Linked DNA regions of Homo sapiens. The protein of the gene in region 2 interacts with the protein of the main gene of each other region in a pairwise test. Each region holds a gene or a part of one and is shown on either strand. Other genes may lie near its edges.

Region 1 (3,817 bases), on a different chromosome or scaffold from region 2:
AAATACAACTTGTTCCCCCATGACCTTATAAAGTAATGAGAAGATTGCATGATAGTGAAGGGAGAAAGAAAGGAAAATATATTGTTTTAACAGTAGTTATGTGCTTCGAGTGGCCTGACTTGTAAGGAGTTGCTGTGATTTGTTTTGCAAGAGTGCAAGCCTTCCTTTCTGATTCTATAGAGATCTCATTGACTAGAGCTGCAGCCCCTAGTGCTTATAAGGATTTCCTTTCAGCTTAGACTAAATCCTTTTAAGCTCCACAGAACAGGGATAAATGTTGATTTTCAAGGTGGCATTTTACTACACTGAATGTGTCTGAAAAATGATTCAGTCATTTTCTGCCTTATTCTTAAATATTTGCTGTGTACATCATGTTTCTAGGTAGGTGAGCTCGTGAAACAATATGAAGAGGAGAAAATAGCCTTTTAAGGAAATTGGCCCACAGAAAGGATGGCCTTCTTGGACAATCCAACTATCATTCTAGCTCATATTCGACAGTCACATGTGACCAGTGATGACACGGGAATGTGTGAGATGGTTCTCATTGATCATGATGTTGACCTAGAGAAGATTCATCCTCCTTCAATGCCTGGAGACAGTGGGTCAGAAATTCAGGGAAGCAATGGTGAGACTCAGGGCTATGTATATGCCCAGTCAGTCGATATTACCTCAAGTTGGGACTTTGGTATTAGAAGACGCTCAAACACAGGTAAACATTGTGTTCTAGTCATGTCTTCTGAGCTTTAAATCAGTAAACAGTCTTATGGAATAATGCATAATATTGGAATAGGCTTAATGGGGGATGTTTCCGGGTATTAATAGGAACATGCATATGTCAGACTAAGAGTGAGTCTGAGCAACATCTCCATCTCTGCGACTGCGAATGGAGAGGGCCTCTAGAATATTATTAGAAGTAGACAGAAGGGGGATAGTGAAAAAGTTGGTTAGGAGAGACATGTTGGACATTTCTAACAAGTCATTGTGTAGAAAGGCAAGTGGACTGGCTTTGAGTGTCTTCACACAGCAACATTAGTCCCAGTAGGTAGACTACCCGGAGACAGATTTCAGGTTGACATAATAAAGAGCATTTAATACAGAGAGGTGACCACCCAAAGAGAGCAGGCACTTCTTGCCCCTGGAGGAATTGTGGGGGAGTGGGGAAATGGGAGGAGACACCTGAGTATTTGTTAGGGCTGGTTTTAGTAGGATTCTATACATAGGGTGTGAGATTAGAAAAGGGGCCCCTGTTTTTGATACTTCGCCTTTATTTTCTTAAATTGATCACCTTTTGATTTTTCTGGCTTGAAAACACTCAACTTTGGTATACACGTATTTAGTCATTAGCTTTAAAAGCTTATTGCCCATTTTCCCACTTATATTTTTTTGGTGGCCTTGTTTCAAGGGGAATGTGATGAACCAAGGACTTTTTTTTTTACTTAGACAAATTATTTAGAATACATATTGTAGTTCTAATATGACAGGTATTCTAGGAGGTAATTTTTTTTAGATAATCAGAAAATATAATCTTCAAATTAGCAGTAACCTGCTAACTCCCAGGAAAGGTAATGGCAAGGAGATATAGTAGAACACTGAAAATACTTACATATTTATTTTCATGGTCCAAATGTAAAACACACATAAAGGAATATTGGAGGTAGAGCTGGATACAATTTACTGTGAAAGGCACATTCAAGTTTTGGTTCAGAATTCAGTATCTGTGACATAAGAATAATTTGCTCTCATGATGAAAATAATTAATAGCATTTCCCAGTATCTAAAGGAACTTTTGTCAAAATAGGATTTGAGTGAAGGTTTGAATATAATTTAGAACCATTGATTTTCAGTTCTCTAGTTGAAACTGACTTCCTTGCAGGTTATTGAGATGATATCTTATATGACAGGTTGAATGTATTTCAGTGGGAGAATGCTGCTAAATTGAGAGCTTTATGATTATATTACTTTGGCTGTACCCTTCACATTTATTAATTGCAATTGAATGTAGTTTTCTTCAGTGTTGGTTAGATATAGTGACATTGTCAGAATGCTCTTCCCAGCATAGTTTAAATTTCTGGTAAGATTATTTTCAGTGTTTCCCTACCACAATGCTAAGGCAGAAGTGTATAATTTCCTATCTTGAAAGAGGCGGAAAAAGAGATGTATTTATTTTCTATTAGCAAAATGCTGGGATAGGAAGCTGAAGATTAGCAAGAGAAAACTGATTTCAAGAGATGGCATCAATTGTGACTTTCTTTTTTATTGTGGTCTCTGTATGCGGCAGTTGTTAAGTGCATGCTGGGTGGTATTTCTCTAAAGGATCAGTTCACTGATTTTTGAAGGTTGATCAGCCAGTGGCAATATAATCACAAATGCATAATTTTAGGTGACTCTTGTTGGAATTTCTTTAGGTAGCACTTAGATGCTAATAATTAATTGAGATTGTAGGTTGTCTTAGTGACCAAAGAATTTACTTTTTAATCCATGCAGCATATCTTAAAATTTTGTAAAAGAAAAATTGTTCTTTTTAAGATTTGACTAATGTTACAAAGATACAAATCATTTATTTTACTACCTATAAACTGTTTCAGCCCACTGAAGAAAAGCTATGCTAATTTATATAGCTTTGACATTTTATAATTTTCATGATTTTTAGATAAAGGATTTTATATTTAAAACTTTAATAGTCTAGTCTGAGTTCATTTATCTTTAATTTTTGAAATGGGTAGAGTAATTCATAACAGTAATTTTATTCCTGTAATGTAATATTCACTTCAGTTCATTTGTGCATTAAAATTCCTTTAAGACCGTTATTAATGATTTATATAATGAAATGTCATATTAATCACAGAAGTTTTCACATTTTATTATTCTCTTCCATGTTAATACTATCTTTATGATCTCTATTAGTGTTTTATATCCTCTAATTTCAATTATAAATCAAGAATATTTTCATGTTTTTGTTGGTATTTGCTTTTCAGGGGTGCCACCTTTAAAATTTTATGACTTTTTCTCTACATATGCAATATAAAACATCTTTATTCATGTAAAGGTAGTTAATTATGTCTTTGTTTATGGTAAACTTTCATTGACAAACTTACAGTTATAATATTTCTTTTCAAGCTCAAAGATTAGAACGACTCCGAAAAGAGAGACAAAACCAGATCAAATGCAAAAATATTCAGTGGAAAGAAAGAAATTCTAAGCAATCAGGTAAATGGAAATGATTTTAATTCTTAATTTGAGATTTATATATTTAGTTTATTATATAAGAACTTTTATTTTTAATTCATCCTTTTAAATCCTCTGGACTTAGATACCTCTAGTGTTTTGAGCTTTGAGCTCTTTCTCTTGTGTGCCTTGACCCTCTGAAGCTATATGCTCTTTAGTTCTTGGCTTTTTGGCCACCCTTCACTCTGGGTCACAGGGATTGATGTGTGCAGGGGACATTTTTTACAAGCTGTCATGTCAGTATTTTTTTCTGATTTTTTAAAAAAATATAGGCCAAGGAGTACCCTATGATTTGATTTTTATTATTATTATTTTTTTTGAGATAGTGTTTCACTCTTTTTGCCCAGGCCGGAGTGCAATGGCACGGTCTTGGCTCACTGCAGCCTCTGCCTCCCCGGTTCAAGCGATTCTCCTGCCTCAACGTCCTCAGTAGCTGGGATTACAGGCGCATGCCACCACACCTGGCTAATTTTGTATTTTTAGTAGAGATGGGATTTCACCATGTTGGCCAGGCTGGTCTTGAACTCCTGACCTCCAGTAATCCACCCACCGTGGCCTCCTGAGGTGCTGGGATTACAGGCATGAGCCACTG
Region 2 (3,817 bases):
TTCAGCTGCAGGAACAAGTTCACCCACAGCCTTGGGGGGTCTGGCCCTCGGGAGGAAAACGTGCCGTGTTGTGCAGAGGGGAAGGTACCCTTGTCATTTGCTCAGGGGGCTGTGACCATGCAGGGTCCCCAGGGTGGGTTCTCCACTCCTCCCCGAGCCCGCCTCCCTGGCCGGCAGCCCTGACTGGGAGTCTGAGGCTCCTGTGCTGGCGCCCGCTACTCCAGCCGTGGGAGGGTCCCTTCCACCTGTGCTCACCCCTCGCCCTTCCTTGGTAGCTGCTGAGAAACCCACACATTCCAGATCATTCTCCCACCCTAGCACTTCCTGGTCCACACGGGGGTCCCTGGCTTGCTTGGCCCTTTGCGGGTAAATGATTCAGAACGTGCAGCTCCTCTGGATTCTCAGGAGTCTTCACCACACCTCTGGGTTCTTCTGCCCGAGCCAGGCGTGCAGAGCCAGAGGGCCGGCGCACTTATGTCCCTGAGAGGTGCCTGGCGCTGCCTGTCCTCTCCTATCCAGTTTGAAGCGGGAAAGGGAAGAATGTTCTGGGAAGTACAGGGAAGCCAGGTCCAGGAGAAGCCTTGGCCGAGTCCCTGGAGCGCCTAGTCCTGGCTCTGTGGGGCAGCACCCACACCCTGAGCGTGACCTGGCCCTGCTGTGCGTCGTGCACCTGGGCTCCCCAGCCCTCCTGCTGTGATGCCAGCTGGGAGGTGGACTCTGATGGGCATGTGGCCCCGGCTCCCCCTGCAGGACCGCCCGGGTGTCTTCTCGGCCGGCCTGGACCTGACGGAGATGTGTGGGAGGAGCCCCGCCCACTACGCTGGGTACTGGAAGGCCGTTCAGGAGCTGTGGCTGCGGTTGTACCAGTCCAACCTGGTGCTGGTCTCCGCCATCAACGTGAGTGTCCCCACTCCCAGGTGGCCTCGCTGGCTGTTCTGGGCCAGCGCCAGGGGGTGGGACAGACACTGTCCTGCCCTTGGAATCTCTCACAGGGGAAGGGGACGGTTGGAGAGGCCCTGAGATGTGCACAGGTGAGCGCCATCGCAGACCACGGGGCGTGTTGAGAAAGGTGGGCCTCGGGTGAGGGCCCTGGCCTGGGTCAATCAGACAAGACCCAGAAAAGAGCCAGTGGGTAGGGACCAGGGCCTGGGGTTGATGCCAGCCTGGGTGGAGGCTGTGTGGGTGAGTGGGTGATCGGACCCACATTTTGGAAACATCACTCCATCCCTTCTGGGGGAAGGCCAGGGAAGCCGAGAACAACACGGGGGCTTAACCTCAGGAACCAGGGTGTCCTGCGGGGTGGCTGTGACAAGCCGGGTGTGGGCCGGAGCCTGGTGGAGGGGAGGGCTGGTGTGAGAGGAAGCCTCAAGGGTGCACGGCCATGCAGACAGGATGGGTCCTGCGCGGGGCAGTGGGTACCTGCAGTGACCACAGGGTGAGTGTGGGGTTCCCAGGACATCCTGGTTGCGCTAGCTGCTGGGGTGGTATCGGGGCCCCCTTGGGGCATGACAGTTATGACTAAATGCTTGTGTGGCATTTTAGCATTGAGTAAAAGCACTGAGAGGACAAGCGACTTGCTCCCCTAACTGAATGGTTTTTAAAAGTGATTTATCTGTTGCCGAAGAACTAATGACCCTCGGCTGAGGACGAGCCTCAGACCCTCCTTGCCGAGCGCTAAGGGGCCAGTTCCTTCCTCATCCATTTCCCAGTGCACACCCAGCCCAGCCCAGACCATTGTGGGTGTTGAACCCTGCGGGGGTCGGGGTGCGCCAAGGGCACAGGCCCTCCTTCCTTGGACCTGGCCCTCTGGAATGTGGTTGGGACCAGCAGCACCTAAGAGCCCTGTCCGGCCTCTCCCTGCAGGGAGCCTGCCCCGCTGGAGGCTGCCTGGTGGCCCTGACCTGTGACTACCGCATCCTGGCGGACAACCCCAGGTACTGCATAGGACTCAATGAGACCCAGCTGGGCATCATCGCCCCTTTCTGGTAAGGCCCTGGGCTGCAGCCACGCTCCATGCTTGTTGTGGAGGGAACAGACCCGCCTGGGGCCATGTGGTGAGTGGGTGTCTGCATTTCCAGGTTGAAAGACACCCTGGAGAACACCATCGGGCACCGGGCGGCGGAGCGTGCCCTGCAGCTGGGGCTGCTCTTCCCGCCGGCGGAGGCCCTGCAGGTGGGCATAGTGGACCAGGTGGTCCCGGAGGAGCAGGTGCAGAGCACTGCGCTGTCAGCGATAGCCCAGTGGATGGCCATTCCAGGTGAGGCACGGGGCATGGCGGGCGCCCGATGATGCTGGGGAGACCAGAAGGTTCTCCACCCAAAGGTTTTCTGTGGACATCGTGACTTCGGGAGACTGTTGATAATCACAGCCATGTGGGTGTCAGGAGGCTGCTGTAACAACGCAGCACAGACCGGGTGGCCCAGACCGCAGAAGCTCATCTCACGGTGCTGGAGACCAGAGGTGCAAAATCAAAGTGTGGGCAGGACTGCACTTCCTCCCTGCGTTCCAGGGAGGCTCCTTCCTGCCCCGCCCACTTCTGCTGGCTCCAGGCCTCCCTGGGCTTGTGGGCGCCTCGCTCTAATCTCTGCCTCCATCCTTACGCAGCTTTCTCCCCTGTGTTTCTGTGGGTCTCAGGTCTCTCTCTCCCTTCTCAGGACACCTGCCATGTGATTTAGGACCTACCTTAAATCCAAGATGATCCCAACTTAATTACATCTGCAGAGACTCTTTCCAAATAAGGTCACACTTCCAAGTTCCAGAGCAGTGGTTAGGGCTTGGACCTATCTTTTGGGGCACACTTTTCAACCTACTACAAAGACAATTGTCCACTTCATAGAAAAAGAGCTGGTCATATCAGCGATGGTATAGACCAGGGCCCAGCAAATTCTGTCTCTAAAGGGCCAGGTGGCTTGTGGGCTCTGTAGGTAAGACCTTTGTAGCAGAAAGCAGCCACAGAGGAGACGTAAACTGACAGGTATAGCTGTGTTCCGGCAAAGCTTTATGGACAGTGGGCCAGGTGCGGTGGCTCACGCCTGTAATCTCAGCACTTTGGGAGGCTGAGGCAGGCAGATCACTTGAGATCAGGAGTTCAAGACCAGCCTGGCCAACATGGTGAAACCCCATCTCTACTAAAAATACAGAAATGGGCCAGGCGCGGTGGCTCACACCTGTAATCCCAACATTTTAAGAGGCCGAGGCGGGCGGATCACAAGGTCAGGAGATCAAGACCATCCTGGCTAACACGGTGAAACCCTGTCTCTACTAAAAATACAAAAATTAGCCAGGTGTGGCGGCGGGCGCCTGTAGTCCCAGCTACTCGAGAGGCTGAGGCAGGAGGATGGCGTGAACCCGGGAGGCGGAGCTTGCAGTGAGCTGAGATCGCACCACTGTACTCTAGCCTGAGCAACAGAGAGCAGGACTCTGTCTCAAAAAAAAAAAAAAAAAATGAGCCGGGCGTGATGGCACGTGCCTGTAATTCCAGCTACTGGGAGGTTGAGGCAGGAGAATCGCTTGAACTTGGGAGGCAGAGGTTGCAGTGAGCCAAGATCATGCCATTGTACCCCAGCCTGGGTGACAGAGTGAGACTCTGTCTCAAAAACAACAAAAAAAATTTTATGGACACTGAAATTTGAGTTTCACATAATTTTCACATGTCACAAAATACTAACCTTCTTTTGATTTTCAACTATTCAAAAATGTAAAAACCAGCCCGGCACAGTGGCTGAAGCCTGTAATCCCAGCACTTTGAGAGGCCAAGGTGGGCGGATCACCTGAGGTCAGGAGTTTTAGACCAGCCTGGCCAACATGGCAAAACCCC

Evidence for each region.
Region 1: the proteins of ECI1 (region 2) and MAPKAP1 interact in a two-hybrid assay, tested with the Homo sapiens proteins (one large-scale study listed by BioGRID and IntAct).

Annotation. Positions count from the first base shown.
Region 1 is NC_000009.12:125,669,208-125,673,024, reverse strand, and holds part of MAPKAP1 (target of rapamycin complex 2 subunit MAPKAP1), read left to right. Parts: intron 1-381; 5' UTR 382-450; coding exon 451-709; intron 710-3,117; coding exon 3,118-3,207; intron 3,208-3,817. UniProt on the Homo sapiens protein: Component of the mechanistic target of rapamycin complex 2 (mTORC2), which transduces signals from growth factors to pathways involved in proliferation, cytoskeletal organization, lipogenesis and anabolic output.
Region 2 is NC_000016.10:2,241,486-2,245,302, reverse strand, and holds part of ECI1 (enoyl-CoA delta isomerase 1, mitochondrial isoform 1 precursor), read left to right. Parts: intron 1-750; coding exon 751-897; intron 898-1,863; coding exon 1,864-1,985; intron 1,986-2,078; coding exon 2,079-2,257; intron 2,258-3,484; exon of another isoform or gene 3,485-3,668; intron 3,669-3,817. UniProt on the Homo sapiens protein: Key enzyme of fatty acid beta-oxidation. Able to isomerize both 3-cis (3Z) and 3-trans (3E) double bonds into the 2-trans (2E) form in a range of enoyl-CoA species, with a preference for (3Z)-enoyl-CoAs over (3E)-enoyl-CoAs.